Linked DNA regions of Homo sapiens. The protein of the gene in region 3 purifies or fractionates together with the protein of the main gene of each other region. This does not show direct contact. Each region holds a gene or a part of one and is shown on either strand. Other genes may lie near its edges. The genes, in order: BOK, CIAPIN1, BBOX1 and TANK.

What was found.
Region 1: the proteins of BBOX1 (region 3) and BOK purify together in Homo sapiens (affinity purification with mass spectrometry; one large-scale study listed by BioGRID and IntAct). This does not show direct contact.
Region 2: the proteins of BBOX1 (region 3) and CIAPIN1 purify together in Homo sapiens (affinity purification with mass spectrometry; 2 studies listed by BioGRID and IntAct, with this or other methods). This does not show direct contact.
Region 4: the proteins of BBOX1 (region 3) and TANK purify together in Homo sapiens (affinity purification with mass spectrometry; 3 studies listed by BioGRID and IntAct, with this or other methods). This does not show direct contact.

Annotation. Positions count from the first base shown.
Region 1 is NC_000002.12:241,568,882-241,576,927, reverse strand, and holds the end of BOK (bcl-2-related ovarian killer protein), read right to left. Parts: intron 6,804-8,046; coding exon 6,640-6,803; intron 4,632-6,639; coding exon 4,506-4,631; 3' UTR 2,797-4,505; downstream 1-2,796.
Region 2 is NC_000016.10:57,426,967-57,434,767, forward strand, and holds the end of CIAPIN1 (anamorsin), read right to left. Parts: intron 7,247-7,801; coding exon 7,078-7,246; intron 5,595-7,077; coding exon 5,521-5,594; intron 4,301-5,520; coding exon 4,185-4,300; intron 3,374-4,184; coding exon 3,292-3,373; intron 2,315-3,291; coding exon 2,204-2,314; 3' UTR 1,221-2,203; downstream 1-1,220. UniProt on the Homo sapiens protein: Component of the cytosolic iron-sulfur (Fe-S) protein assembly (CIA) machinery required for the maturation of extramitochondrial Fe-S proteins.
Region 3 is NC_000011.10:27,113,926-27,122,527, reverse strand, and holds part of BBOX1 (gamma-butyrobetaine dioxygenase), read right to left. Parts: intron 7,077-8,602; coding exon 6,971-7,076; intron 2,880-6,970; coding exon 2,683-2,879; intron 1-2,682. UniProt on the Homo sapiens protein: Catalyzes the formation of L-carnitine from gamma-butyrobetaine.
Region 4 is NC_000002.12:161,227,861-161,236,462, reverse strand, and holds the end of TANK (TRAF family member-associated NF-kappa-B activator), read right to left. Parts: intron 5,493-8,602; coding exon 4,912-5,492; intron 1,122-4,911; coding exon 945-1,121; 3' UTR 233-944; downstream 1-232.

The DNA.
Region 1 (8,046 bases), on a different chromosome or scaffold from region 3:
GGGAACTGAGGAGAGCCGGGCCGCAGGGCACCCTGGCGTTTGTTCTCTGGGCGGATCAGGGGAACCGAGGAGAGCCGGGCCGCAGGGCACCCTGGCGTTTGTTCCCTGGATGGATCAGGGGAACCGAGGAGAGCCGGGCCGCAGGGCACCCTGGCGTTTGTTCCCAGGGTAGGGGAGCTCTAGCATGGCACACAGTAGCAGAAGATAGCAGGTTGTGGTCGGCCCATGTAGAGATTTTAGAAACATCTCACACTTCATGAGATCTTAGAAACATCTCACACTTCAGGTTCAGTCACCCGTGTCCAGTGTCCACAGGAAGGCCTGTGCAAGGCCTCATGGGAAACAGGGTGGTCCACCAGGCCTGCCCTCAAGGGGGCCCCGTCCCGGAGAAGCAGATGCACAAAGCTGAGGGACACAGGTCGTGGGCCTTCTTGTGTGGCTCCTTGGCCACGGCACCGCAGCACCTGAGAGCCACCGCTGGAGAGGCAAACGAGCCCTGCAGCAGGCCCGAACCAGAGTTCCTGGGCACGGCCGCGTGCACCCAGTCGGGAGCTTCCCTGCTAAGGGTCAGCGAAGGCTTGGGGTGCTGGCATTAGGGCTGGGTCCTGAGGGAAGATGAGGGAGAGAAGTATAGGAGGAGGAGGGAGTTGAAGGCTGCAGACAGGAGGAGGAAGGGGAGGGAGTAGGGCTGCCAGGGGAGGGGTGGAGGGCTGGATAAGGAGGAGGGCTACAAAGAAAAGAGTAGAGCTGCAGGGAAGGAGGGTGGAGGGCTGCAGCGGGAGGAGGAGAGGGAGGAAGGCTGCAAGGGGAGGAGGAGTATTGCAGGGGAGGGGGAGGAGAGCTGGCAGGGGAGGAGGAGGAGGGCTACAAAGAAAAGAGAACTGCAGTGGGAGAAGGAGAGTGGTGGAGAGTTGCAGGGGAAGGGGAGAGGGAGGAGGACTGGAGGAGGAGGAGGGATGTAGGAGGAGGGTAGTGGAGGGCTGCAGAGGAGGAGGAAGAGGAGAATAGGGAGGACAAATCCACTCTAGCAGGGGAACGAAAGCAGCATGGGGCAGACAAATCCACTCTAGCATTCCAATCTCCCTAAGCCTTTGAATCCCTTCTTCTACACTAACCATGGGCGGCCAGGCATGTCCAGTTATCCCATGGTGGGCCATGTTTTGGCCCATGTTTCAGCCAAGCAGCCAACCAACCAATTAGAGCCCTTTCTAAATGCGGAATCTCTGCTTAGTGAGCCCGTATCAATAAACTTGGCCTGATCTAACTCTGTGTTCCTCCTACCATTCTCCCAGGCCCTCAATATGCATTCCCACGGTCCTGGGATTTCTATGTAAACTGGAAAACTCACGTTCTCTTTGGTAAGTGCATCTCCTCATGGTCACGCCCTGTATCTCTAGGGGCTGCCCAACATCAGTCTAGTTCCATGTCTAGAAGCAAAGAGGGGTGGGGGCAGATCCTGGGAAGCAGCAGCTTGGTCCTGCTAGTCAGCAGCCTCAGGGCAGTCCCATTTCCTCAGGCAGTACAGGGTTAACCCACTCAGATGGAGTTGGGGAGGCTACCACTAGGGTTAGGAAGGCCTCTTCCACTGAAGACTCATCAGGATTTAGGGGTTGTCTTCACTGTTCATCAGGGTCACCCCACACATCCTCATCCCAACTGACAGGATCCCATTCCTTCCTAACCAATGCCTTCATTTGCACAGCAGACACCGTGAGGCTGGGAGTTCCACATGTGCTATAATCCAGCCACTGGAAGGGCGAGATTCTGGGTTTGATTTTCAGTAGTCTCAGACCCGCAGCTAAAGGAGGTAAGAGTCTCTCTTGGGACAGTCATAACTTTCAGATTATTCATGTGACACTTCAGCTGGGAATCTGAATCCTGAGCTCACTCCCATGATACTTTTTCTGAGATGGAGTCTCACTCTGTAGCCCAGGCTGGAATGCAGTGGGGCAATCCCAGCTCACTGCAACCTCTGCCTCCCAGGTGCAAGTAATTCTCCTGCCTCAGCCTCCCGAGTAGCTGGGATTACAGGTGCCTGCCACCACACTTGGCTAATTTCTGTATTTTTAGAAGAGTTGGGGTTTTGCCATGTTGGCCAAGGTGGTCTTGAACTCCTGACCTCAGGTGATCTGCCCGCCTCAGGCCTCCCAAAGTGCTGGGATTATAGGCGTGAGCCACCACACACGGCTTTTTTTTTTTGAGACAGGGTCTCACTGTGTTACCCAGGCCGGAGTACAGTGGTACAATCACAGCTAACTGCAGCGTCAACCTCTCAGATTCAACCAATCCTCCCACCTCAGCCTCCAGAGTAGCTGGAACCACAGGTGCAGGCCACCGTGCTTGACTAATTTTATTTTTTAGAGATGGGATCTTGTTATGTTGCCTAGGCTGGTCTTGAACTCCTGGCCTCAAGCCATCCTCCTGCCTCCCAAAGTGCTGGGATGACAGGTGTGAGCTACTGGTCCTGGCCCATTATACTCTAGTTTGATGAAAGTGTTCAAAAGCCACCGAGAACCCTGCCTTCTGCAAGTATTTAATTAGGAGCACCCAGTGGTGATACTATGCATACCTCTATTGCCACATCACACTATGGACTATCGGTGTTCTTTTTACTACTGGAAATCAGCATTAGTGCCTTTACATCTAATCAGGATAAAGACCCAATTCCAGGAACCCTCCCATCCCCACCCTCTCGCCACTCCCCACCCTCAATTATTTTCAAGCAAACCCTCCGCACCTCTTACCATGTTGTGTATAGGTAGAAGCTATTTAACACACACACAGTGACATTCTGTCTAAAATGACAACGATCGTTTGGAGAAGTTTATTACCACCCCTACCCTCCAGTGGGATCTCAATGTCACGATGAGTCCGGGGCTGGCTTTCCGCCGGGACCCTCCTGTCCTGGCACATGGCCCACCCCAGCACGAAGCCTGGCCGGGAGGGCTCAGGTGGGTGGCTGCTAGGCCAGGCCTCCCCAGAACGACTGCCCCATGTCCAGCCTGTATCTCCTGAGTGCCATGCTGCACTGGGGAGGGACAGGGCTGGCTCGGGGCTCCAGGAAAGATGCCTCACATGTGCCTAGAAATGTAGGCGTCAAGGGAAGGCTGTGTGTGGGGGCACCTGAGGGGCTGGGCTTCCCAGGCATCTGAGTTCTTACGGAGCCCTAATAGGCACATCCCCAAATGGTTGTATGAGGATGAGCACAAAAATAGCAGATGGGGTCACCCTCACCCTCCACTGACAATGGACTGGGATCCGACTCATGCAACATTCCTTCTCGGCCGTAGGTTCCACATCCATGGGTTAGGTGTGCTGGCCTGGAGCCCGCCGGCCCCGGTCCCCACCGCACAAGGACCCCATCACAAGTGGGTGTCATACTCTTCCTCCAGAAACGGATTAAGCAACCAGCATGTGAACCTTACGCTCTGTTTACAGGCTGAGTCCCCACAGCTCTTCCAGCTTCAGCCAGGCCAGGGTCACCTTCAGATTGAATGTGCAGGGCCCCTGAGGACTCATGTCCTGAGATGGCCCTTCTTCCTGGGATGGGACCCCCGGGTTCAGGTGAGAGGTGTTCCCGGGCCCCTTCACCTGGGGCTCAGGTGACAGGAGGTGTTCCGGGCCCCTTCACCTGGGGCTCAGGTGAGAGGAGGTGTTCCGGGCCCCTTCACCTGGGGCTCAGGTGAGAGCAAGTGTTCCGGGCCCCTTCACCGGGGGCTCAGGTGAGAGCAGGTGTTCCGGGCCCCTTCACCTGGGGCTCAGGTGAGAGCAAGTGTTCCGGGCCCCTTCACCAGGGGCTCAGGTGAGAGCAGGTGTTCCCGGGCCCCTTCACCTGGGGCTCAGGTGAGAGCAGGTGTTCCGGGCCCCTTCACCTGGGGCTCAGGTGAGAGCAGGTGTTCTGGGCCCCTTCACCTGGGGTTCAGGTGAGAGCAGGTGTTCCCGGGCCCCTTCACCTGGGGCTCAGGTGAGAGCAGGTGTTCCCGGGCCCCTTCACCTGGGGCTCAGGTGAGAGCAGGTGTTCCGGGCCCCTTCACCTGGGGCTCAGGTGAGAGCAGGTGTTCCGGGCCCCTTCACCTGGGGTTCAGGTGAGAGCAGGTGTTCCCGGGCCCCTTCACCTGGGGCTCAGGTGAGAGCAGGTGTTCCCGGGCCCCTTCACCTGGGGCTCAGGTGAGAGCAGGTGTTCTGGGCCCCTGCATCTGAGGCCTGGGAGTTGACCCTGACTTCCTGGCCCCAGAAAGAAAAGGGAAAACACAGAGATCACAGGAGAAGGGACACAAGCGGGGAGGGTCGCAGGCTGCCCCAAAGCCCAGCTCCAGGCTCAGGAAAGCCCCTCCCCACTCACCCCTTCCGGAGGGCCTGGGTCTGCGGAGGAACGGGGCTTAGGGGGTCTCCGAGGGTTAGAGTGCTCCAGGCTCGGGTGGGGAGGAGGAAGATGTGTTCGGGTGCTGAGGGCCTCCTGCGTTGGGCCCAGAGGGCCAGGCTGCGGCCACTGCCAGGTGGGCAGCTCATCTCTCTGGCAGCAGCACGAAGAAGGCAGCCTTCAGGAAGCGGCCGAAGCTGCAGAGTGCAGCCACCAGCCAGTGGGAGCGGAGGCCAGGGTCTGTGCTGACCACACACTTGAGGACATCAGTCTGGGAGGGAAGAGGGAGACCGTTAGAAAGCAGAGCCAGCACCGCCAGGCCCCCAGCACCGCCAGGCCCCCCAGCACCGTGCACCAGAATATCAGCAAAATTGCATGAAGGGAATGCAGGAGACTGTTCGGGAAGGAGGTCTGTGGCCTGGACTGAAGGCTCCAACACAAGACCAGACCCGATGCCGTGCACATTCAGACAGTGTGAAGGGCCAGGAGGCACGGGAGGTGGGGACAGATGGCAGCCAGGCAGGCCGGCCGGAGGGCCCCTGCCGAGCAGGAGAGAGGCCTTCATGGCCCTCGCTGGGGCTCCAGACATCCAGACCAGGGTGCCAGCTCCCCTCGGCCACCTGCCTGCTGCCCCCCAGGGGCTACAGGTATGCCGCCGTCATCCTCCTGTGGGGCCTTGGAGCCTGGGCTACCAGGAAGGGGCAAACCCAGCTTCATTCAGACTCTGCCTGGAACAACAGCAGGGACTGCGTTTCCGGAAGCCCACGGACTCCCTGGACTCTGAAGTTCCTTCTGGGGAAGTGAATGAACGTCCAATTCTCTTATTCCCTTCACTTCCTGCTAATACATGAAGGCTTTTCCCTGCAGCCTGGACCTGTGGCCTTGGCGTTGCTCAAAGTGTCGTCGCCCACTGGGCACACAGTGCCCAGCCCCATGCCAGACTCCACAGGAGGAAGACAGGAGGGGACGGAAGTCTTGGGGTTTCTGTGCTGAGGGACACCTGTAGCCATGTGCGACATCTTGGGACATTGCCCTCTGCACCCCCAATTCAGCCTTCAGAGGAGACCACAGCCCCCGCAGACCACGTGACCTCAATCTCTCGAGATGCTAAAGCTAAGGCCCCAGCAGAGGGGTCTGAGCGCTGTCACCCCTGGCCGCTGATTTACACACCAGGCCAACACCCGCTGTACAGGAAAGAAGGCTAGACTCTCGGCAGGGGAGCCACCCTCCACACCCAGGGCCCAGCGGCAACTGCGGTCTGGCCGGAGCAGGGCAGGAAGTTGGGGGCGTGGAGACAGAGGAAGGGTTTGGCTCTGACACCCACCCCTCGGGGCCTTGCTTTTCCCACTCGGGAGGGCGGGGGCTGGGGCAGCGGGTCCTTAGCACAGGGGTAGGATCGGGGGTAAGTCAGTGCTGGATCTGGGCAGAGGAGAGTCCAGGGCCTGCCTGTAGGTCTCGGCCCTTGCCCCACCCCCTGCCTCACCCATCTCCCCCAGGAGTGCTCAGGTGACCACCCATCCGCCACTCCCTCCCGTACCTCTGCACCCTCGCACCCCAGCTCTCCCACCCCCACAGGCGCTCAGACACTCACCCATCCGCCACTCCCTCCTGTACCTCTGCACCCTCGCACCCCAGCTCTCCCACCCCCACAGGCGCTCAGACACTCACCCATCCGCCACTCCCTCCCGTACGTCTGTACCCTCGCACCCCAGCTCTCCCACCCCCCAGGCGCTCAGAGGCTCACCCATCCACCACTCCCTCCTGTACCTCTGCACCCTCGCACCCCAGCTCTCCCACCCCCACAGGCGCTCAGACACTCACCCATCCGCCACTCCCTCCCGTACGTCTGTACCCTCGCACCCCAGCTCTCCCACCCCCCAGGCGCTCAGAGGCTCACCCATCCACCACTCCCTCCTGTACCTCTGCACCCTCGCACCCCAGCTCTCCCACCCCCACAGGCGCTCAGACACTCACCCATCCGCCACTCCCTCCCGTACGTCTGTACCCTCGCACCCCAGCTCTCCCACCCCCCAGGCGCTCAGAGGCTCACCCATCCGCCACTCCCTCCCGTACCTCTGCACCCTCGCACCCCAGCTCTCCCACCCCCCAGGCGCTCAGACACTCACCCATCCGCCACTCCCTCCCGTACGTCTGTACCCTCGCACCCCAGCTCTCCCACCCCCCAGGCGCTCAGAGGCTCACCCATCCACCACTCCCTCCTGTACCTCTGCACCCTCGCACCCCAGCTCTCCCACCCACACGGGCACTCAGGCGCTCACCCATCCGCCGCGTCTCCGCAGCCAGGTTGCCAGGGTCTTGCGCACGAACTCCCCCAGGCAGTCCACGAGGGCGTGGACCATGGCAGGCTGGGCCTGCCTCACACAGTCCACGGCCAGCCCCGCGGCCACCGCATACAGGGACACCACCTTGCCCCACGTGATGCCTGCAGGGAGAGAGATGGTCAAGATCAGGACTTGAATCCCGCCCACGGGAGCACTTAAGGAAGGGGCTGGGCCTCTCTGAGCCGCTGTCCTGCTTGCCGTCCAGCTAATGACCAGGGACCGTCCCAAGGGGGGACCGCTCCCTGACAGGATGCCTGTCAGGTAGTTCTTGGGCAGGCAGGTTTCTCGGCCTCCACTGCACACCTGCCCAGCCCACGTCTGTGCAGGAGGCCGCAGGGACAACGTGGGGTGAGGCGAGGGAACTGAGGGCAGCAGCAGATGGAGTGAGCAGCCAGTGACCTCACGGGTGGCACCCCTGGGCTGCCTGTTCCCACAACAGGCCTGGCGTCCACATTTTACACATAAAGAAGCTGAGGCCCGCAGAGAAACTGCCTTCCCCAGACCCCTAACCTGCTGAGGCTGAACTGAGATGGGAGCAGCCTTGAAAGAGAGGACGAAAGATGGTGACAGCGGGGGAAAGAATAAAAGGCAGGACACGACGCCTCAACACGGAAAGACGTCTTATACGTGAGCGAGAAAAGAGAGGCTTTCAAAAAAGAACTATGAGCACAGAACTGGAACAGCTGATTCACAAAAGAAAATTATAATAAGAGACACGAAAAATGTTTACCTTCATTAATAACCAAAGAAAGGCAAATTAAAACAAAATGTAATCTGTTGCATTAAAAGCTTTTACGCCAGGCGCGGTGGCTCACGCCTGGAATCCCAGCACTTTGGGAGGCCGAGGCGGGCAGATCACAAGGTTGGGAGTTCAAGAGCAGCCTGACCAACATGGTGAAACCGTCTCTACTAAAAATACACAAAAAATTAGCCAGGCGTGGTGGCACGCGCCTATAATCCCAGCTACTCGGGAGGCTGAAGCAGGAGAATCACTTGAACCCGGGGAGGCGGAGGTTGCAGTGAGCTGAGATCGCGCCAGTACACTCCAGCCTGGGCGACAGAGCGAGACCCCGTCTCTAAATAAATAAATAAATACATGCTTTTAAATGGCAGTGTGAGGATTCAGGCCACTGCACAGCCTTGTAAACCTTGGTGGGAAGCCCAGCTTGAGGGCACTGGCAGTATCTGAATGGCCACAAAACATGCAGCCCAGCAGTGATCCCCGCAGGGAGTTAGCAGCGGTCCCCGGAGGGAGTCAGCAGTGGTCCCTGGAGGGAGTTAGCCTGAGGACACTGTACATGCAAAGATGAAGCACTGCTCTCCAATCCACCCTCATACAGCGGC
Region 2 (7,801 bases), on a different chromosome or scaffold from region 3:
GAGAATCGCTTGAACCTGGGAGGCAGAGCTTGCAGTGAACCGAGATCACACCACTGCACTCCAGCCTGGGTGAGAGAGCGAGACTCCATCTCAAAATAATAATAATAAATAATAATTTTGTTACTGTCAAACCATTCTGGGGCTGAATTAGTTTCCTACTGCTGTGTAACCAACGACCTCACATTTAGCTGCTTAAAACACCCATTTCTTATCACAAGTTCTGTGGGCCAGGAGTCCTGGCACAGAAGACCGGGGCCTCTACTCAGGATCTTACAAGGTGCCGGCTAGGCTGCATTCTCAACTGGAACTTGGGGTCCTCTCCAAGCTAACCTGGTTGTTGGCAGAATGCGGTTCCTTGCAGCTGTGGACTAAGGTCCCCTTTTTCTCGACTGTCTGCCAGCATGTGAGGAGCCTGCACTCACAGTTCCTTGCCAATGGCCCTCTCCCTACTTGGCAACTGATATGGTTAGGCTTCGTGTCCCCACCCAAATCTCATCTTGAATTGTAATCCCCATAATCCCCACGTGTCAAGCGAGAGGGGTGGAGGTAACTGAATCATGAGGGCGGTTTCCCCCATGCTGTTCTGATGATAGTGAGTTCTCACAAGATCTGATGGTTTTATAAGGGGCTCTTCCTCCTTTGCTCAGCATGTCTCCTCCCTGCCACCTTGTGAAGGAGGTGTCTTGCTTCCCCTTCGCCTTCCGCCATGATTGTAAGTTGCCTGAGGCCTCCCCAGCCATGCAGAACTGTGAGTCAATTAAACCTCTTCCCTTTAAAAATTACCCAGTCTCGGGCAGTTCTTTATAGTAGTATGAAAACAGACTAATACAGCACTTACTTCTTCATGGCTAGCAAGAGAAATTCTTCTCTAGTTCTTTTAAAGGATCAACTGATTGGGTCAAGCCTACTCAGGATAATCTCCCTTTTAATTAACTTCAAGTCCATTAGGGACTTTAATTACATCTGCAAAATCCCTTCACTTTTGCCACAGAAGGTAACCTAATCACAGTAGGGATTATCCCATCACATTCACAGGTCCTGCTGAAACTCAAGGGGGTTATTACACAAGGGCATGAGTCACTAGGGGTCATCTTAGACCTGTGTATAAAAGGGGCTTTGGAGCCAAACTTCAATTAGCCAAACAAACAACTAAAATCCACCAGCAGGGACTAGGATAAGCAAAGCAAACTTGGAGAATCAAATCAAGTTTCAAGGACAGATATCAATGAAAACTTTTATTTACTGGTAAAATATAAAAATCCAGGTCTCTTAAATCCACACAATCTCTCCAAATATTTGGCAAGATTGATTCCAAGTCCATATGGGTGGATAACAAGAACAAAGGGGTCTCTGCTCAGAGAGACGTATTGTCGTTCAGAGTTCTGCCCTGCTTCCCTCTAAATGCTCACCAACCTGGACTCTTCTAAAGTGGGCAGACAAGCCCTATTCTAAGCGTAGGAATAGCCCCATTTGTGCGTGACACTAAGTTCCTCCAATGGTCCAAACTGAGCGTGGATGACTATCCAACATCACACACAAATGCACATCCCCTCTCTTTACAAGACATGCAGAATCTCAAGATATGTCAAGATATGCAGCAAGTTTAATACCTGAAGGTTAACATAAATGACAACAGGACACAGATGCAATGCTACAGTCAAATGTGGTTGGGGATGGAAGGGGGCAGAGGGACACTGGATATCATCACAGCAACCAGTGAGTGAGTCCTCTGGTGCCCTGAGGAGGTTGTGAGCCACTTGACTCGTGTCACAAAGAATGGAGTAAACTAACAACTCTGAAAGACAAGAGGGTGGCAGCATTGCTGAGATGAGACTCAAGGCAGGGGTCTGCAGCTCTGTCACAGAGTGTTAATGCTCAACGATGCCTGGGCTCAAGAGCGTTCTGGTCAGCATTTTAACATCAGAAGAAGGGCTTCTTCAGGACACACTCCCTTCTCTTAACATGAGGTGAAGAAACCCATCCCATTCTGAAACCAGGTCCCATAATACCTTGGTCTTTTGATACACAGCAGCACTACACACCACTGTGCCCCCCAGCCAGCTTCACTCTGTCTGCTAAGCACCCACTCTGCAAACAGATCTCAGAGTGAACAAATCCAGAGGAGGTGGGAGGAGCCACCATGGTGGGATGTGAGGGACAGGAGTTGGCTGGAGGAGCAGATGGGTCCCATGTCAGGAACCTCCTAGGCATCATGAAGATTGCTATCACTCAGAAGCACCTTTTCCCCAGGTTTGAAGGCTGGCATCCCAAGGTAGGGGCAGCTGGCACAGCGGAAGGCATCGCCCAGGTAGCACTGGAGAGAGAGAATGGGGAAGCCAAGGGTCAGCTTATCCCAGGCATACCAGCCAGAAGAAAGAAATGCCTAATTTCATAATGTGGCCACAGTGGCCTGAAGGAAATGGCTATGTTTGCAGGTCCAATTGAGACCAAAATACTAAGAGTTTTCAAGATTTCTGGTTTCGTGAAAAACTATAGTCATGAAAAGTTCCCTAGGAGGCCATAGTTCTTTTTTTTTTGTTTTTGAGATGGAGTCTCCCTCTGTCACCCAGGCTGGAGTGCAGTGGCGCGATCTCAGCTCACTGCAAGCTTCGCCTCCTGGGTTCCCGCCATTCTCCTGCCTCAGCCTCCCAAGTAGCTGGGACTACAGGCGCCCGCTACCATGCCCGGCAAATTTTTTTGTATTTTTAGTAGAGACGGGGTTTCACCATGTTAGCCAGGATGGTCTCGATCTCCTGACCTCGTGATCCGCCCTCCTTGGCCTCCCAAAGTGCTGGGATTACAGGCGTGAGCCACCGCACCCGGCCTTTTTTTTTTTTTGAGATGGAGTCTCCCTCTGTCACCCAGGCTGGAGTGCAGTGGTGCGATCTCAGCTCACTCCACCTCCCAGGTTCAAGTGATTCTCCCGCCTCAGCCTCTGGCATAGCTGGAATTACACACGTGAGCCACTGCGCCCGGCCATAGTTCTATATTCTATGCAGTTCAAAACACAACCAACTTTAGCTAACTGTCTAACCATCAGGTCCCACTCTGAAGTACAAAGAAATGGGCCAAAAATAAAAAGCAACAAGACCCTCCCTGACCAGCACAAGCACGCTAACCCACTCTCACTCTCAGGAGACAGCCTCTCTCCCCATTACTACCTACGTTCGTGTGCTCACGCATTCGTCTGTTACTAAAATATTTGAGGTGGAGCTTGTCTGTGTTTAGTTTAGAAGAAGGTCTAATCCCCCTGGGGGTTTGTGAATGCTGAGGAATGATCCTGATATTTACGTTTCCACAAGCTGACTTGGGTTGGGAGCTCATCTGTTCCCTTGACTTCTCTTTTTCCAGTTCTTCGGCAAGGCCACAGGTGCTGCGGGAAAATCAGTAACTAATGAACGAGAATTGTCACCACCCAGAAATCCCAAATCCTAACAGTGCCAAAATGTGCTTTAAGCCTTTTCTCTTCACACCAGTGTCATAACTCAGAAGCCTATAGGCCAGGCAGACAGCAGCAATATGAGAGGCTGCTGAGGGAGACAGAAGTGGGAGGAGGATGAGGGAAGTACCGTGTGTGCTCTGTCTACAGAGGGCAGCCACTACTCAAGCTTCAGCTGGTTATCATGCTGGGGAAAGTGGACCCAGATTGCCATATTTTCCAAATTCAAGAACAGAAGGGAAAAAAATCTGTGTTTTCACTTGAAATTTCCTGATTTGTAAATGCTGGCAGCTTTTACATTTAAAAAACACTGATGATTAACGCTGATGATGAACATCACTGATTAACTTTCTACAATCCTTCCCATCCATTTATAAAAACAAATGTGAAGACACCAAGGTCTCGCTCTGATGCCCATGCTGGAGTGCAGTGGCACAATAGTGGCTTACTGGTAGGGTTTTGAGGGAGAGTGAAATTAGATACATGGCACAATTACGGCTCACTGCAGCCTCGACCTCCCAGGCTCAAGTGATCCTCCTGCCTTTGCCTCCCAAGTAGCTGGGACCACAGGTACATACCACCATGCCTGGCTAATTTTTTTTTTTTTTTAATTATTTGCAGAGATGGTCTCCCTGTGTTGCCCAGCCTGGAAAATGTATGTTCTAAAAATAGTACAGCACCGCGATGTCTTCAGCATGAAGCCACTGGAGGCAGCATGGCAGGCTCCAGTCACCCCAGCACTCACCAGTTCTTACAGGCCTTCCTCTTTTTCCCTTCCCCACAAGAAGCAGCCCGCAGGGAAGCTGGATCTGGCTTCTTCAAATCTTCTGGATCCAGCAGCTCATCTGAGTCAATGAGATCCTGGAGAGTGTTCAAAGCAATGAGTGATACAGTCGTGGTCTCTGCTAATGAAAAGCTAAAGTGACTGCAGGCTTCGAGAGGAAACTTGGAGTCCAGGGTAAAGAAGGTGTCCACCCTGTCCTCCTTTTGGTTGATCATCATGTTCAACCTGACCACATGCTCAAGAGGCCAACGGTGAGTTAAACTACATCCACAGAAGATGCACTAGGATGCAAAGGAATTAGAAACAAATTTACATGAGAAAAAGCTGTATGACTGGCCAGCAATGTGTAGAGAATATACACATGTTGGGGGTTGGGGGCAGGAGTGGGGAGAAGGGAGGGAACAGGCAGAACAGAGAAAGAGAGAAGTGTTTATGAAGAGTCACGTGAAAAAGGGAATAAAATATCTTTTACATAATCCCAGATAAAAATCAAATAATTATATATACCTTTATGTAATTCTTTGTAAATGTGTAGACACTTAGTCTGTAAACCCTATGAGAGCATGAACCTCACTTATTTTGCTCACTACTCTAACTTCAATAGTAGAGGTGTAGAAATGAAGAACTTTATTACAGACATGGCCAAAGATAGAAAATAGTGCTTTTTAAAGCATGGAACAGTCAGCAACTTGCCCAAAGGTGCCAATAAAACTATTTAAGCTGACAAAATCTTTTCAGGTTTACACATGCCCACAAGAGTTTTCAACATATCGTATGAAGTGAGAACAAGAAATTATGTGGGGAAAAAGAGATGCTAAAAAATTTAAAATGCCACCAACATGGCCAAGCGCAGTGGCTCACACCTGTAATCCCAGCACTTTGGGAGGCCGAGGCGGGCAGATCACTTGAGGTCAGGAGTTTTGCGACCAGTCTGGCCAACATGGTGAAACCCCGTCTCTGCTAAAAACGCAAAAATTGGCCAGGTGTGGTGGCACATGCCTGTAATCATAGCTACTTGGGAGGCTGAAACATGAGAATCGCTTGAACCCGGGAGCAGAGATTGCAGTAAGCCGAGATTGTGCCATTGCACTCCAGCTTGGGCAAGAGAGCGAGACTGTCTCCAAAAAAAAAGCCACCAACATGGAGTTTCCTTCTAAATCAAAGATGTGACAGGCATAGTCACAAATCTGGGCTTTAAATACGTTCACACCTACAAGTCCAGAAAGGTCACTATAGCTGTTCACACCCAAACTGGGGCCTGAAAGAAAGCAATCAAGTGACAATGCTGCCAGCTCACCATGCTGTCGTCCTCCATATCGTTGGCTGAGAGGGTCCACAGCTTGGCAGCAGCAGGGTCCACAGCAGGTTTCACTGAGTCCAAGCAATAAAAGAAAAAACTCCATAAACACAGTCAGAAACTATTAATTACAAACATACATAAATGCTTCCTGCTGTGTAGAAGAGAACACACTGGCCTGGGAGGCAGAAGATGTGGGTTCACAGTCCAGCTCTACCCCTCTGAGAGGTCTGACCTTGGGCCAACCACTTGCTGATAGTTACAGAAGTCACCATTTGCTAAGCTCTTGCTTTGCACCAGGCACCATATTAAGCACTTATATACATTATCTAACTTAATTCTGCTGACAACCTTATGAGGTAACTATCTGTCATCCTACTTTTACCGCTGAGGAAACAGGTTTAGACACTTAGGCTGGTTCCACAGGCTGCAAAGCCTGTCTGATGCTTTTAACCTCCATTCCATATTGCTTCCTCCTCGATACCTTAGTTTCCATTCTATAACATGAAGTTAAATTGTACTTCCTATGTTACTGCAGGTGTTTTGAGGATTAAATGAGAAATGTGTCAAAACCTTCAAAAATAGCAGAGCTTTAGCCTCATGTAAACCTGCTACATACAAGAAAATAGGCTCTAGAGCTGCTGGTGGCAAGGTAACACCATCAGTGGCAGACAAACCTCACACTTCCTGGTTCTCTGTCTAGTCAGGAGAATGCAAGGAAGAGGCAGAGAGCTGAGGCTCGGATGCAGTGTGGGCAAATCCTCGCAGGCCCTTGGGGTAAGAGTACCCTCTAGTGATCATTGTCACAGCTGGATGCTCATACCTTCCACAAGGCCAACTGTTCTAAGCTATTCCTACCCATTCTGGAACCATGAATCGAAAGGTTAGATTCCAAAGGATTTCTTGAAGATTTAGGTTAGACAGTCAAAACCGTACAAGTGGGAATGTACCAGTAAATATCTGTTAATGTCTGCATACCTCACAGCTGGGTCAATTCAGGCATTTAAAAATAGGGATAGGAAGGATGAGGATGGAGCTGTGTGTGTGTGTGTGTGTGCGTGCGCGTGCGTGCACGCGTGTGCTTGTACACAATTTTCTAGTCAGAAGAAATATAGTTTTATAAGTGTCTTAGCATCCTCAAAGTAAGAACAGCTGATTTTCCTGGCATGGGGAAAAAAGCACATGAGAACAGGAACAGGGCACTCTCATACACCATTACCACTACACTGTGAGGTCTTCTGAGGAGAAACGTTAATTCTGGGACCTGGAAGGACCTCATTAATTAAACTGTGTGACTCAGTCCTGTAAAATTAGGAGGCCTCGGTATCTTCTGGTGCAGAAGAAGGAGCTGAACTAGATAATACCTATGTATTATTTCAGTTTTGGATCCTAATATGCCCATGATAATAGTACATTAAGTATTCTTCTTTGTGGAAATGGCAGAAATCAAAGGACTAATCCTCTAAAAATATCACCATCTCATTTATTGCTGGCTCAATTTCTAACATGTCCCTCTAAGCCCATTCAAACAGAAGAATGTCCCTAGGCCAGCCTTACCTGAAGGAGAAGACTTCTTGGTGATGGAAAGCTTAAGCTGCCTAGAAGAACCCACTTCAAAGTTTGGTTTTTTGCCTGTGATCTGAACAAACAGCAGGTTGTCACTTTCATGACCAAGGTGTTCTCGAACAGACTGTACTTCCTCAGGGGTTAGGGGCTCCCGCTGCAGCTAGAATTCAAGACATCAAAAGGATTAGTTCACCCTCCTCTGTAAAATGGTTTACTATGTCTACCTACACAGGAGTCAAAGACTCATTTCTGTGCATTAAGGATGTAACAGTGGATGGTAACAGATAACACTTTATGCCTCACATTCAGTTTCTCACTGATCAGAACCCTAGAGTATAACCTTTGTCTGCATGTTTACTTGGAGCCTACCCCTTGGAAAATGTAAAAGTACTTAAAAAACATTAGGGATGAGGCATATACTAGTTATTTGGGATGTAATACAATTATGAAAATGAACCAGATGTGGTCCTACTGTGTAACAGGAAAGAATGCCCACAATGAAGACAGCAGAAATTTATATCCCAAAAGAAAAAGGGGGAGGAAAATCCTTTCTATGTTCCTTGGGATAAAGTAGCAGAGAGTAAAGGTAGAAAAAAAGGGTCAGGGTGCCACCTCTATGTCCAATAATTATAGACTGGTTACATAAATCACAGTCCATCTATTGTATGGAATACTATTACATCATTAATATGAATGAAGGGAAATACACTGAAGT
Region 3 (8,602 bases):
AATAGAAATCTCCCCCCAGTAAGTGTGTTGGACTTCATGCATATTATAACTAGCTAAAATGTATTCTGCATTTTCTAAACTAGGCACAATAGTAGGGGCTTCCATATATTAACTCTGCAATTCCTACTTCAATCATGTGTGGCAGTATTTTTTGTTTTCGTTTTTTTAACTGGAAAATATACTGTGGATCAGCAAGGGTAAATAATCACATGAGAGATTACACAGCTGGCAAGTAAAAGACTTGAATTTACGTGATTGAATGTGTAGTTGATAGGATAGCTGAGTCTCACCGTCATTAATTTTGCTTGTTTCTTTATTGATTTATTTTTCTTTGTACTGAATTATAAGTAATTCAGTCAGCAGCATAAAAGACATTTTTGTACTAGGACATAAAAATTTAAGGATTTAACCACAAAGAAAATTAAATTAACCCAAACACTTAGGAGATGGAGGCCCTCTGTTAACTGAGAACGCTCTGTTTCATTTCCTGTTGTTGAAAATATACTTTTAAGTGAATTAATGTTAACCACTTGATATTTATTCTCTAGGGGCTATTCCTGAGACCTCACACATGGCCAAATTTTGAAATTTTACTACAGAAAATATCAAAGCCAAGTCATGAGCCACATGGTGGACATTCAGTTAATCTTATCTATAGCTATGTTTCTTGCCTCTGTTCACTAGCCTTGCAGAATCTGTAATCGTATTGTGTCTTAACAAAATTTTGATTTGTCATGAATTTTTAAGTTAATATTTGACTAGTTAAAACTGTCACATTATAACTAAGGGTCTCAAGTTATTTCCTTTTCACCTTGATGAGTGAATTCTTAGAAAACGTCTCAGGTTTATTCTGGACTAGAATTTCATTCTTGACGTCTATCTTTTTCTCAGACACTTCCTCCAATCTTTCACGAAAACAATCTGTTTATACATGCAAAATGTAACCAAAAACTGATCCTTCTCCACACCACCACTGCTGTCACTCTAGCCACTCATGTTCAAGGCACCACCATTGCTAGCCTGGAGTCATGCAGTAGCTTCCTAGCTGGTCTTCCCGCTACTATCCTTGCTCTTTCTAGCAGTCAGGGTGACCCATTTAAAATATAACTAAATTTACATAAATATCAAAGTCTTTCCTTTGATCAGGATCTTGCAGCAACTTCTTACTTCACTCAGAGTAAATGTTACTGTTATAATTTGCTAACAAGACTCTACAGGAACTTGTCCCTACCTGACTTCCTCCCCTAATACTTGCATCCTTCACTCTGTTCCAGTCACACTGGTCTCCTTGATGTTCCTTGAACACTCCAGACATGTCCTTAGGACCCTTTTAGAACTTTTGGTCTAGCAGTTTCGGGAAACTGCTTCTCTTCTGAAAACTCCATCACTCGTTTAAGTGTTTGCTCAAATCTCAGTAAAGCTTTCCCTCACCACGCTCTTTAATAATGCAATTTCCGTCCTTGCTAAGCCCTACAGATTCCCCTTATCTTGCTATGCTCTTCCTTTTTTTCTTAAGCATTTAATAATTTTTAACTTTTATTATAATTTACTCATCTGTTTAAAAATCTTTAAAATTTCCCTTCCCCCATTAGAGTATAAGCTATATGAGGGGAGAGATCTTTGTTTTGTCCACTGATGTATTCCAAGTACCAAGAAAAGTGGCTGGCCTCAATAAATATTTGTTGAATGAATAAATGAATGTACTGGGGATTTAATTATTTTCTAAATGAGTTTATTTTCATACCATTTGGCTGTTTCTCTTAATAGAAAAATTTAAACTCAATTCTAAAATTCTAAAATTATACCCCCCTACCAAAATTAATCGAGGTATAATTAAATAAACTGTTGTAGAAACAAAATGTAAGTTAATTTGCAAATAAAAAGATGAATTTGTGGCCTTTGTAGGTACTTGGAAAAATTATAATAAAATAATATTAAATAAAAAGAAAGGGAGAATACAAAATGTTCTGTGTAGGTAATATATGATCTTTGTTGGCTTAGTATCTCTTTGGGGAGCCTCCCTGTTTCATTCTCAGTCCGTGTGATTCAGATGAGGCTGACCCTGCTCCAGAGTTGAACATGTGATCCAGGCATGGACAATCAGAATTCTCTAACCCACTGGCCATGATGATTGATTCAGGGATAGACTTGGACAGAAATTAGGGATTGAGTCATCTAGCTTTATTGGGAAGTAAAAGCATTGTTTGTGGTGTGATTACTAGCTGTAAGGAAAATGAAATCTTGGAGCTTCTGCTGATCATCTTTGAAAAATAAAGCTAACATAGAAGATGGCAAAGCTAAGAAGAAAAAAGAGACCAATATCACATGACATTGTTTAACTCTTGGGATCAACCTATTTTGAGTTATATTCTTTCACTTCTGGCCAAAAGCCTTCTAACTAGTATAATCACATTGATTATAGCTATGTAGAACTTATATTCTAAAAATGAAGTATACGTGAAATCTTAGTTACTTTTCCTCTAATACTGATTAGGGATAAATTTTATGTAATTTAATAAAAACTTTTATGGTGAAAATACTATCACTCTAAAATTGGGTGAAATGTTAATAAAAATAAAGCTCTGAAGTTCGTTGAAGTTTTGTGCTGTTTAAACTTTAGATTAGTGGATCTTTTGTTGTCAATTCTTTTATTGCTATGGGAAATTTATAAATAGTACTTACTCTATAATTTTATGTTTTGATTGTACAGAAAAATCACAGTAATCCACTCCAATGTCTGTAAAGTCCACAAAGGTAGAGGACAAAATCTGGAATGCCTGAGGATTATTTTTCTTTAGTTTTTGGCACACATTAAACCCATCTACAATTTCTGAATCACCCCCTGTGACTGTTTGCTTTATGCAGTGAAGAAGCTGAACCTATAAAAAGAAAATATGCATTATTAAATAAATATTAAATTACATTTTAATTATTAGAATTAATCTTCAATAAAATAAATAATAAAATAAAATAATATACATGCACCATTTTTTGATACTGTGTTAAAGATTCAAAAAGCTATGAATGAACCAAAGCCAATAAACTTTTTTTTTTGTCTTTCTTATGTCATCAGAAAAGAGTTGGGAAGAAAAAAGTTGCTTATAATCAATACTGTATAGTTCAAACATGTTACAGTTGAAGACATAGATGCAGGCATGATAATGCTCATTAGCAAACAAAAAGAACAGCTTGTAAGAGCTGCATAGATGGAGCACTTGATGTTGGAGTAGGCAGGGAAGGATTTCAAGGGGAAGAGGCGGGTAAGTTAGGCAAAGGGGAATGGATGAGATTTGGGTTATGCAGAATAGAACGAGAAAGCAAATCAGGTGACAGAAATAATGATGTGCAAAAATGCACAGTTCACTGGGTAATAAAAAGTCTGGCTACAGCAGAGGGCCATAAATAGAAAGAGTGAATCAGGTTGGAAGGGCAATTGGTGAGGCCTCATGATGGAGAGTCTTAAATATCAGATGAAGGGCTTTTGTATTTGTGCATAGAGGGAATTCACTGAAGGCTTTTGAATATGAAAGTAATGTAGTCGGAACTGAGCTGCAAAGTATTAGGCCAGTGGTGTTACATAGGATTATGTTTTTTTTTTTTTTTGAGGAAGGAACTGGTCAGAGTAGCAAAACAATAGCATAACTTTGTTTTTGGAGGATCACAGTGTTCTTTAAATCCTTTTAGATTTTGCCATCATGAACTGACAGAATATTTCAAGTGCTAATTTTTAAAAAGATCATTTTTTAATGTTATTTACATATGTCAAGGCCCCTTGATACTTTCTTTTGTACAGTTACACTTTTAATACAATCTTCAAATAGAAAAAAGATGATGGAGCCTGACAATACTTTTATTGCTAGGTTAAAACGCAAATACATGCCTGTCATGTATAAAACCCAATTTTACTTCATATGAGTCATTCAGAACCAAAAATATTTTCCTTCTGAATGTTACTTTATGCAGCATGTGACTTCTGCAAAAACAGTGAGTGAAGCAACATCTCTGTTTCATTAAAGATGTGGTGCCTTATCTCTGCCCCACATAATCCAAATCGATCAAACTGAACTCTCAACAGGTAACTCATTTTTCAGATTATTTCATCTATACAGAAAAATATATTGGTTTGTTCTGTTTGTTATAGAAAATCTCAAACCTTGGCACAACTCACCTGGAATAATTCAAAATGGAAGTTTGAACAACAGTACAAACAGGTTGCCTACATTTTATTATTCTAGTAGAATCTAGACATTTTAGGAATCATCTGCTATTTTAAAATCTCCTATCAAGTCACTTAGTTTGGATGTTTCATTTGCTGGAGACAGGTACAGGTTTGTTGCACTTCTTTGCCTCTTTATAGTGTATCTATGATGTCTCTATTACATGCAATGTGCGTGTAAATATTGAGATACAAAGTATTGAAATACAAAGAACTTTTTTCTTCCCAAGAGTCAATTCTTGTCTTTAAGAAGTTTGTAAAGTACGATAAAATCTATAAATATTCTATTTTACTACATAAATTATAATAGTTAGAAATTCCAGCTCAGGATCAGTGTGGTGTGACAGAAAACTAGATGGAGGCCTGGGTTCAAGTCCAAGTTCCTCCTTAATCAAATGTCACCCTATAAAAATATTGAATCTCGTGTTTCATTTTCTCATCTGACATAAAAAGACATGATCAATCTTGTCTACCTTAAAGGAATGTCAAGAAGAGTCAGATAAAATAATGAAAGCAAAACTGCTTTGAAGTAGTATAATGTGCTATGACTATGAAAAAGTCAAGCATTCTATTATACTTCAGGAACATTTATGAAGTCATTTGGTCACTTTTCCTTAGGCTTCAAATTTTAACCCAGAAACAAAACTTAAATTCTTAAAAGACAGAAGATAATTTAAAAATTCAAATAAAACTTTTAGTTTTCTAGTCTCATTCTTTAAGCCTTATTCCATCCAACTCCCTCAAGCTATGTTTGGAAGAAGAGCTGAGCTGATTAATTTGGCTCTTAACTCTAGGGTTTTAGAAAAATCTGAGCCACATTTAGAATAAAATCACACTGGGTGTCTCCTGCCCCCAACCCTTACCCAAAAGTGTGTCTACAGGGGTCATTTTACTGCCACTTAGTTCAAAGAAATCATGTGGTATTTTACAATCAACAAAATAATTTATAACATGTAAAGTTAAATACTAGACTAGCGTAGCTAATACTGGCAAGAAGAATGGGTAACAATAAGGGCACAGAGAAAACATGTACAGTGAAGATAATGAAAAAAAAATTGGGCTAATTGTGATTTTGGCCCATTCTCCTTTGTTAACTTAAGAATTGCCCAAATTTTCATTTGCCTTTGAAGATATAGGTTTCTATGTGGTTATTTCACATAGTCTAATTTAGCTGTAAAAATAGGGATGGCATATCTTTTAAAAGGTAGTTTCCTAACCACTTATTTTTGGTGTAATAAAATGATGATTTTGTAAAAATGTAGCTCATTTAGTAAAATGAAACTTTTGTAAAAATGTAGAGAAAGAATGTCCACCCAGAGATTCTCCTGGGGATTTGTGGCTTCACACTGAGCATTTCCCTCCTTGACAAGGAATCTGATAGATGGGATGTTGGATGGTTTCCAAAAATAGCCACTGTTATTATGTTCCTTGTAGTCACACAGTTTATAATGCATTTTTGCAGCTTCCTCCATAAGCGGTCTATTTCCTCACCTCCTGAATGTGGGCTAGATTTATTACTTCCTTAGACCAATATAACATTGCAGAGGTGACTAGCCCAGGCCTTGAGAAGTTGTGTAGCTGTCTGAAAATTCTTCTAGTTGCCATATGCATTAAACTTGGGCTAGCCTACTGGTGGTGAATAGACCGAGTGGAGCAGAAACCAGCCATCTCAGTGAAAGTCAATCTGTCCCAAGCCAACTTAGCAACCAATTGCAGGTATATGACTGAAGACAGGAGCTGCCTAGCTGAATACAGCCCATATTGAAAAAACAAGGGCTAAGTAAATGGATGTTTTCTTAAGCCATCAAGTTAGGGAGTGAGTTATTATTTTTTTTTTTTGTTATACTTTAAGTTCTGGGATACATGTGCAGAATGTGCAGGTTTGTTACATATATATACACGTGCCATGGTGGTTTGCTGCATCTATCAACCCGTGATCTACATCAGGTATTTCTTCTAATGCTATCCCTCCCCTATCCTCCCAACCCCCCCAACAGGCCCCAGTGTGTGATGTTCCTCTCTCTGTGTCCATGTGTTCTCATTGTTCAACTCCCACTTATAGGCGAGAACATGCGGTGTTTGATTTTCTGTTCCTGTGTTAGTTTGCTGAGAATGATGGTTTCCATCTTCATCCATGTCCCTGCAAAAGACATGAACTCATCCTTTCTTATGGCTGCATAGTATTCTATGGCGTATATCTGCCACGTTTTCTTTATCCAGTCTGTCATTGATGGGCATTTGGATTGGTTCCAAATCTTTGCTATTGTGAACAGTGCTGCAGTAAACATACATGTGCATGTGTCTTTATAGTAGAATGAGTTTTAATGCAGCAGTAGTTAATGGATATGAATGATGCCCATGTGACTTTGAGGGAAACCCTACATTTTGTTTACTGATTTCATTTTCTCTCTTAACTTTCTTAGAAATATATGTGCAAAAAGACCTTAAGATTTACTCCTACCTTAAAATCTGTCTTGGCAAAGCAAAAAATGCTAATAGTAATTTCTAGGAAGAACAAAGAAATGTTTTTGTTGTTGTTGTTGTTGTTTTAAATGAATGAAATTATCCTCTCCTTTAGGAATGTGAAGATATTTAGGATTTAGGTACAGAGATTTTGTGAGCTTGGATTGTGTTTGGAGAAAAAATTTATAAAAGACAAACTACCTGGTGAAATGTGTAATCTTCTAGACTCAAAATACGAAAAGATACTGGTCATCATCATGCTTTGTGGAAAATATGTTGAAGCTCACTTACCCCAGGTGGATGATGGAGGGCTGGATAATCAGTGTGAAAGCTTAGCTTCCCAGTTGTGTAAGCCACATTGTTTGCATCGATTTTGTCTTGCACTTGCCAAGTATGTCTGTAAAATGCAAGAAACACATGTTTAAACAGGTTGTCACTAAGCCAGAGGAAATGCATTAGAATGAATTTGATATGTGGGGAGAAATGGAAACTTTTCATTTTTTGAAATAATTACCATAATGACTATGAGTGAGACAAGGAATCTGACCTTTCTCTGCCTAAAGTCACTATTTCAGAATTAACATCTCCTCATTTTTCCTCTCCTCTCAACAAAAGAGTACATCAGTCTATCCTACAGTTTATAAAGAAGTATATATGGAATTGTAGGTTATCTTTTTACTGGGTTAATGCATTTTAAAAAGTGATTTATTGAGGTGAAGTTCACATAACAGAAAATGAATCACTTTAAAGTGAACAATTCAGTGGCATTTAGTAAATTCGCACTGTTGGCAACCACCACCTCTACATAGCTAGTTTCAAAACGTTTATATTACTCCAGATCAAAACCTCTTATTTTAGTAAGCAGTTTCTTTCCATTCTACCCTTCTCCAAGACCTTGGCAATCACTAATTTGCTTTCTGTCTCTGTGGATTTACCTATTTTAGATATTTACCATAAATGGAATTATATAGTAAGCTCATGCTTTTAATGTTATATCTAAGAATCCACTGCCCAATCCAAAGCCATGAAGATTTACCTCTATGTTTTCTTCTAAGAGTTTTATGGCTTTAACTCTTATATTTAGATAATTTGTTCATTTTGAATTAATTTTTGCATATGATATGAGTTGTGGGTCCAATTTAATTCTTTGCATGGGGGTATTCAGTTGCCTCAGAACAATTTGTTAAAGAGGTTGTTCTTTCTCTATTGAATGATATTGGCATGCTTGTTGATAATTGATTGGCCATAGATGTGTGGGTTTATTTCTGGACTCTCAAAATTCTATTCCATTGATCTATTTGTCTATCCTTATGCCAATATCACACTACTTAGATTACTGTAGATTCGTAGTTAAATTTCAAAATCAGGAAGTATGAGTCTTTTAATTTCAGTCTTCTTTTTAAATATTGTTTTGCCCACTTGGAGGCCATCACAATTTCATATAAATTTGATACTGGCTTTTCCATTTCTAAAACAAGAAAATGATACTGAAATATTGGTAGGGATTGTAGACTGCTTTGGGGAGTATTGACATCTTAACAATTTTATGCCTTCCAATCCACGAATACAGGATGCCATTCTATTTCTTTAGGTTTTCTTTAACTTCTGTCAGCAATGTTTTATAGTATAAAGTACTATAAAAGTCTTTTACCCCTGTGATTAAATTTATTCCTAAGTATTTTATTCTTCTGGATGCTGTTGTAAATGGATCTGTTGATTTCCTTTTCAGATTGTTCATTGCTACTGTTTATAAAGACAACCAATTTTTGTGTTTGATCTTGCACCCTGCAACTTGCTAAATTCATTCATTAGCTTTAGTAGCTTTTTTTGGGTGGATTTTATGGGATTTATTATATGTAAGATCATACCATCTGTGAATAGAGATAGATTTACTTTTTTATTTCTCACTTGGATGCCTTTATT
Region 4 (8,602 bases), on a different chromosome or scaffold from region 3:
ATTTCTAATCTAAGTTAACAAATATAGATAGTCCTTGCAGGGTTTTAGATTTTCTCCCGTTAAAAACAAATGTTTCTTTAGAAAGTTTAGTTTGAAGAATAATTCTAAAATTCAAAGTGATTCACTAATTGTAATAAATGCCACCAAATCTGGTCATCACCATTCTATTAGGTTACTGAAATGAAAACATGAATTTTATAAACTTCCCTAAAAATGTGATTCCTTCCTTCCCTTTTTTTTTTTTTTTTTTTACTCAGGAACAAAGGACATACAAATGATCACAACATAAGTACCTCTTAATATTTAATTAATTTCATCATGTAGCTATACACACAGTAAAAATTAAAGCCATGTATATTATTTAAAAATCTAAAGTGTTTAAATAATTCTACCAGTTGTTTTATCACTGGACAAGAAATGTATTAGGTTTGATATTTACAAAGATGTTTATGTTGTCTGCTATTTTCTATTATAGGTTTATTCAAAGAGAATATCACCTATAGCATAAATAATTAAATTTTTCAATAAAAACAAACTAAAAAAACCCTAGAAACATTTGACATCACCAAATTCAACAGCTCTCACTAGAAATCCAAGCAATAAACTTAGATATTTGAAATAAACATAAATTATGATTATATAACTCTAAGTCACATACATAATTTTGAATTATAGTAATAGCACTGTAAACATGAATACAAAGGATTACAGTTTTATACAGAATTTTTTTTGTTTTTCTTCTTTTAGGCTTATTTCTCCTTGAAAGAACAGAATGATCTTTTAAAAAATAAGAGTTATATAGTAAATCCAGAAAAAAATTCAAATAGCTGTGAAACTAGATTTTCCTATAAATGATCTTGAATTTAGTTTACAATCAAGTATTTATAGTATTAAAAACCCAAAATCATCACATAGAACTTGATATGTCTGTTTTCAAATGTGTCTTAAGTCTCTCCATTGAAGTGTGAATTAAGATGCCGAAGGAAATCCCCCCTGGATGTAATGGATGGTGGGAAAACTGCTTGACAGAATTCACATACTCGAGGTATATGCAGTTCTGAGTCTGTGCCACTTAGTACCACCGAGTCACTGTCTTGATTAGGAAAGGGCTTCCAAATGGGCTGCAGGAAACAAACAAAAATATCTGTTACTTATGTTTAAATTCAAATAGCACTGGACTTCAAATTTGAATTTCTGAATGAGTTACGCATGGGCATATATATTGAATTCCCTAATATAAAAGCAAATTACTTTTCCGTAAAGTTAGCATGACATGACTCAATTCGTGGTTTCATAAAGGGCACAACTAAACTTTGATTAAAAGTCACTTGGGACACACACAGTCATGCATTTTATCTTTATATATTTAAAAAGATTGCAGCTTTAGCATGCAATTTTTAATACTCGATCACAACAGCAGTAGTTTTGGAACAATAGCTAATACTCTGGTCTTTTAAATTAAATTCTATCTTTTGTTTTTTACAATAAAAACCTTAAATTATAGGGGCTTTATTAATTACATAGTACACAAGACATGATGTGTGTGTGCATTGCGTCTTAATCAAAATCAATTTCACTACTGTTTATAAGCAAATACAGTGAATACATCATACATGAATCAGCATTATTTTGATTTTTAAAAAGAAAATTTTCCTTTTAAACTACTGAACAAATTTCACTGATGTTATCTTTTGTTTTTAAAAACACAAATATTTAATCATTCAACAAAATCTAACACATGCAGTGTTTTGACTTCTTACTTTGCTTCTGTTATATAATAGGTAGTTTGGCCTTACTCATTCTTGTGGCTGAATAAAGTGAAACTCGTCAATAGTTGCCTGGTTAAAGAATTATGGAAAGTCATAATCTAACAGAACCACCTCCACTATAACCAGCACATAAATACCCTTTCATAACTGCATTTATTCTTTTTTTTAAATTTCTAGAAGGACAAGAAATAGCATTTAGCTTAATAATAGCTACACAATAGATGTCTGTTAACTGGAAAATATTTTCCTGAATTGTGTAAACCAAATTATTTTTTAAAATTTCTTATGTGGACACAGGTAAATTCCTCTGACACAGCTAAATTCTGATATTTTAAGAAGAATCATCTCATAAAGTCAAATTTAAAGAGACCCCTTATCCTCCTATTACTAATATGTTTTTAAAGTCACACATCCTAGTCTAGCACCTGACAAGTGTTACTGTTATTTCCCCTAACTTCTTTCATTCTGGTTAACCAATCATTTACATAAACAGTATATTACTAATGGAAGCACTTGGATTTCACGACATCACTGTCTTCTTATGAACAGTTTACTGGACAGCTGTGTACAATTGGTGTAAATATACAACGTCTGTCTAGGCACCCAGACACATTCAAATATCAGTATGGAGGACTTATAATAATGCTGACTCAATTCCTTTCATAAGAAATGTCAATTTTATTACAAAAATAGTAATATTTAAAATAAATGTTATAAAATTTAGGGTAAAATAACTCTCTGGAAAAACTTCTTTGATAAAAGTAGTAAAAATTGTGAGCATACAAACAAAAATCTAGTTAGAGTTAACTTGATTCTAATTTTAATGTTTTCAGTTTAAACAAAAAAGTACAAATCACTGTAATGGGAAATTGATATGGCCAAAAATAAAAGATTATTAAAGATAATTCTTATTTATATAAAATAGTAAGAAATTAAATCAGAAGCAATTTAGCTTCTAAATTTGGTAAGCCAATCTTCTACTCCCAATTTACCTATTAAATCCATATTCATTTTTCTCTATTAAGAACTTTTAGTTCAGATTTGATCTCTTCATAGAATTTAGTTGGGATCCCACTCACTGACTCAGCAAAGTAAAAAAGAAAATCACATAGAACAATAATAATCTGATATACTTTAGTCTTGGTTATGATAGCTGAATATATAAAATAGATGTTTAGTAGTAATGATTGATAGAAAGTAAAATTTTGAAATATGTAGCCAAAAATTTCACTTGTCTTTGCTACTATCTACAAACAACTCAGGATTTTTTTAAAAAAAAAATTATTATTATTATTTTGAGACAGGGTCTTGCTCTGTCACCCAGGCTGGAGTGTGATGGCACCATCACAGCTCACTGCAACCTCGAACTACCTAGCTCAAGCAATCCTCCCACCTCAGCTTCCCAAGTAGCTGGAGGCCACAGGCACAAGCCACCACACCCAGCTACATATATCTATATAACTATACGTATTTGTAGAGACAAGGTCTTACTATGTTGCCCAGGCTGGTCTCAAATTCCTAGGCTTAATCAATCCTCCTGCCTCAGCCTCCCAAAGTGCTGGGATTATAGGCATGAACCACCGTACCTGGCCCAACTCAGGAATTTTGTACTTATACTAGCTTTGTACTTATACTAGCTTGCATAATACTAGCTTTATTAATACTAATAAAATAGCTTAAAAGGTTTTTTTTAAAAAACTCATTTTAAGAAATATTCTTTCCATCCTAAACTGTAACATGGTCTTCAAAACAAACTAATTTCTTTGCTTTTTCTGCCAAAATATCAATTATCTAACCTTATGCCCCATGTCTTGTGACAACTCAACACTAATTCTCCTGAATTTTTTAAGCTGAATACTTTTCCATCAAGTTGTAATCACATACCAGCTGTTTCCCTTGCTGTAGTATAGAAAGCAAATGTACAATGCAGGGTGCCATCTACTGAAACATGAATGCACAGACTAGTAAAAGAACAAGCAAGACATATAATAGAGAAAAAAGTAACAAGCATTAGAACTGATGCACTTCACAGCTCCACAGGAATTCTACTTGCAATAAATGAAATTGTTTAATTTGTTTCATTTAGTAGCAACTATAACTGAGACTATGATGTGAAATAAAGTACAATGAACAAGAACATAAGTGAGGTTATAATTAAAACTTATTGTCAGCCATGCCTAGTTCTTCCCACTACTAAAATATACCACAGCTTGACAACTGCCTTCTTTGCGTGCTGATTTAAGTCTATAACCTATATGTGTACTTAAAGCAAAAGGGTATTAATAACTTTTTTAAAAAAATTAAATATCTCAAGGCAAAGAGAAATCAGACAAATGTTTGCAAGTTACATAGACATTTACATCAATCTGTATTTTCATAAGCTTCTGTTTTTTGTAAAAATTATATAGTTTTCATTTGCTTTCAGACATTAAACTTTTTTTTAACTAAAAGAATCATTCTGTGATAGAATTTGAATCTAAAAGGGAGGGCAGGAGTGGTTTGGGGGATATTAGTCTGTGAGCTTTAGAAACATTAAATAAAATATTTGATATCATACACATGCAGAGACTATTTAAAAAATATACTAGGCTACATGTTCATTTCCAGATTAGCAACCAAAACCAAACTAAACCCTACAGATCTGTGTACTATATAACTGAAGATGTAGTAGAAGTATTCACTGAAAGATAGTTCACTTATTTTGATAAATAGAAATGTAAGATGCAATTATTTACTTATGAAAGATCTTGAATTCTTATAAAGATGAATATGATATACACAAACTATTAAATAAAACAGCATTTGTTTCACACTATGAAATTTAATATTCTTATTAATCCTGAGTAAACAAGCTTTGAATAAGGAACTAAGAAAGTGACACCACGACAGATATGGATAAGGCTTAACATGTATTTTTAAATCTGACATAAATTCTAAGGTACTTTCCAATAAAGTTTTACCATATTCAGCTTTTCTAATTTCATGTCATTTATTATGGGACTTGTTTTTTTGAAAGCCTTAACTTTGGCTGTCAGTAGTTTAAAAAGGATGTTTGATAACGTAAAAGAGATGCATATCTGTGCATGTATGGCAAAATGTGTGTTCACACATAATAATATATTTGTTAATGCAAAACAGTTACCTGCTGTGGTCCTCGGATTGCTTTTCCCGGGGAATCGAGTGAGGGAAAAGGTGCATCAGATGGGTCCAGAAGTGGGAAGCTATTTACATATAATGCATTATGGTCTCCAGGTGGCAAACACGCAGCTCTATCCAGAGTTGTCCTGATACAAGTGTTTACGAGATTTGAGGGCTTTGTTTTGTCAGTTGTTTTAAGGTTTTGTATAGCTGAAGCTATGGGGTCAATTCCCTGAATTTCAAATAAAGTTTCTTCTGTTTTAACAAAGTTCCCTGGGTTGTCTCTGAACTCCATATTAAATTTCTCTTGGCACACTGCCTCAGACGTGGCAGGACTAAGGATGCCGGGTCTCTCTGGAGTGCTATGTAAGAAAGTTGAGTCATTGTCCATAGGTGGAAACTTGACATTGAATTTAGAAAGTGATTCAAAAGAGGTGTCTTCCTCATCTCTGCACAGTCCTCTTGGTGTGACAGATGTGATGGATGGTGCACCTCTATTTATATCATCTTTAGCCTGAGGCTTAAACAGCGCTTCTTGTTTATCTGTTTTATCCGTACACTGTATAGGCACAGAGCACTGTGTTTCTGGAGGGAGAAGAACACAAAAGAGAAACAGCCGCATTCAAATCATTAAAAAAATCTGTTCAATCAGCTTTGGAGAGATTATTATTATTTTTTCTATTGGTTTTTATAGCAAATGAAGACAACTGGGATTTTAAAATTTGCTACCATCTTACACAGAATATTAGCAGTCTCCAGCGGGTGAACTGAAACATAGCTTATTAGTCGCAATTTAACTACTTTGTCTTTTCCTAAGTCTTCTGCCGTAAGCTTTGCATCTTGTTCACAGTTACACTGCTCCACACTTGAAAAACATTTGCTTGTAGTGTATACATTTAAACATTTTGTCAGTAACGGAAGCTATAACTGTGAGTTTGCTTAGACAAATAAGTTGTTAAAAGGGAAAATCTTACTAGGTATATCTAAAATTAGGTCATTTATTATTAATGTCACTGTCTAACTAAGTATATCACTAATCAGTTTAGCCACTGTCTGCTCTCAATAATCCATGTGAGGGACTGGTGGTTGCAGGAGTTGGGAAAAAGAAGACAGTGAAGGCAAAGGAAGGATGAAATATTGTGATGCATGTTAAGAAAACTGTGGATGAATAGATTATTTTATCATCTTATATCTTTTTTTAAAAAAGACCTCTGTAAAAAACAGGTAAATATCTGGTAGACAAAAGGGCCTCTGTAGCTCATTTATCTAGAACCACTTATCCAACAAATTCAGCTTTGTAGGACACAGTCAAAAGCTAGAAAGAAAACAGAGCTTCTGAGGAGCCAGAATTAGAGCCACAAGGTTCATAGATAGATGAATTTTGTTCCTATTGTCATTTTAGATTTATTCTAACAAACTTGGTGGTATTTCCACAGCTCATAGCTGGTTTGAAACAGCAAATTAAAAGGGAGTATGAGTTGCTAAAGGCAGACATAGATATCAACAAGAGCTAAAAGCATAGGAAGAGATAAGAAAGACAAAGAAGCTGATATAAGAACTTAGAAAACACTACAGTCTAGTATAGGGCCAATGAGTGCTCAATACAAAAAAACAATCATCAAAGTACTCTCCATGTTGATGATTCTGAGACACTAGAAAAAGCCAAATTAAGCTCCACAATGTCCCTTAAAGAAGGCACTGAAGTTGGTAATGTATGTATTTTAAGGATTGTCATCAGCACTGTTGAACATTCACAAATGGAGACATTACCAATGATGCAAATCTAGGTAGACAGGGTATACAGAACACAAGGTATACAAAGTATCTGTACAGGTTAGTAGGCACTTAACAAATGTCAGTTCCTTTATATTCCTTTGGTCTTGGCAGTCTCATGACACCTCTCTGTCTTTTGCCACAGCACATTCCAATATATTTTTTTCTGTTTGGGTATGTGTAGTAAAATGCAACCAACTTCTTTGGTTCATTTTGTTATATACCTACTGCCTCTCTTTATACCTCTCTTCATACCATCCTTTCTTATTGGATTATTATAACAGCCTTTAAACTGCTTCCTTGCCTCTGAATTTGTCTCATATCCAATCTGTTCTCTTCACTGCAACTTCCCCTCCATCCCTTCATTCTCAGAGTAGTTTTTCTAAAATACTAATCTGACCAAGTTACCTTCCTAATAAAATCTTTTGATGGCTCTACAAGCCCCTCAGATCTCAGAAAAGGCTTATTAGACTGTTCATGACTGGCCCCTGGTCATCTCTCCATGCTCATCTTTCACTCCATACTCTGGCTATAATGAACTTTGTATAGTTCTCCAAAATAGCTACACTCTCTTGTCTTTGCACCTTTGCACCTGCTGTGCAGACTGCCTGAAGTGTCCCCTCCCATTACTCTTTGCCCAACTCTTATTTGTCCTTCATATCTTGGCTTGGACATAAGTTTCTCTGGATGACTCTCCCATGACTCTTGGATGCCCTGAGAACTGAAACACACTGTTATATAGTTATGTGTCACTTAACGACGGAACATTTTGAGAAATGCAGTCTTAGGCAATTTTGTCATTGTGCAAACATCATAGAGTGTACTTACAGAAAGCTAGACAGTATAGTCTACTACACACCTACATTATATGGTATAGCCTATTGTTCTTAGGCTACAAACCTATACAACATGTTACTGTACTGAATACTGCAGGTAACACAATGGTATGTGTGTATTTAAACACTGAAAAGGTACAGTAAAAATATGGCATAAAAGATAAAAAATGGGTATGCCTGTATAGAGCACTTACCGTGAATGGAATTTGCAGGACCGGAGGTTGCTCTGGGTGAGTCAGTGAGTTAATGGTGAGTGAATGTGAAGGCCTAGGATATTACTGTACATCACTGTAGACTTTATGAACACTATACACTTAGGTTACACTAAATTTACAAAAAAAACAAAATGTGCTACAATGTAACAACAGCTACCTACAATGTCACTAGGGTGATATTAACTTTTTTTTTTTTGAGACCGAGCTTCGCTCTTGTTGCCCAGGCTGGATAGAGTGCAATGGCATGATCTTGGCTCACCGCAACCTCTGCCTCCCAGGTTCAAGTGATTCTCCTGCCTCAGCCTCCCGAGTAGCTGGGATTACGGGCATGCGTCACCACGCCCGGCTAATTTTGTATTTTTAGTAGAGACGGGGTTTCTCCATGTTGGTCAGGGTGGTCTCGAACTCCCAACCTCAGGTGATCTGCCCAGCTCAGCCTCCCAAAGTGCTGGTATTACAGGCATGAGCCACTGTGCCTGGGCTGATATGAACTTTTAAGTACCATTATAATCTTATGGGGCCATCATTGTATATGCAATCTGTTGTTGACTGAAAATGTCATTTGGCACATGACTGTATTTCCAAGTATAACTCTGTTTCTTCCCACTAAAGTAGGTTTTTTGAGGTCTTAAACTGTTTTGTTTCCTTCTAACTCCAGACCCTTGCCCAGTGTCTGGCACATAGTATGCCCCTAACAAATGAATTCTGAATGAATCTGTAATCTCTCCCCTACAAAGCCTACTATAATAATCAACATTTACCAGATACTCTATGACTAGGAGTGCTATAGTAATTGTCACCAAGCTTAATTGTTTATCTGGATTTCTTTAGCCTCTGAGGTTCTTAAAGTCCATTAACTCTCGAGTAGTCA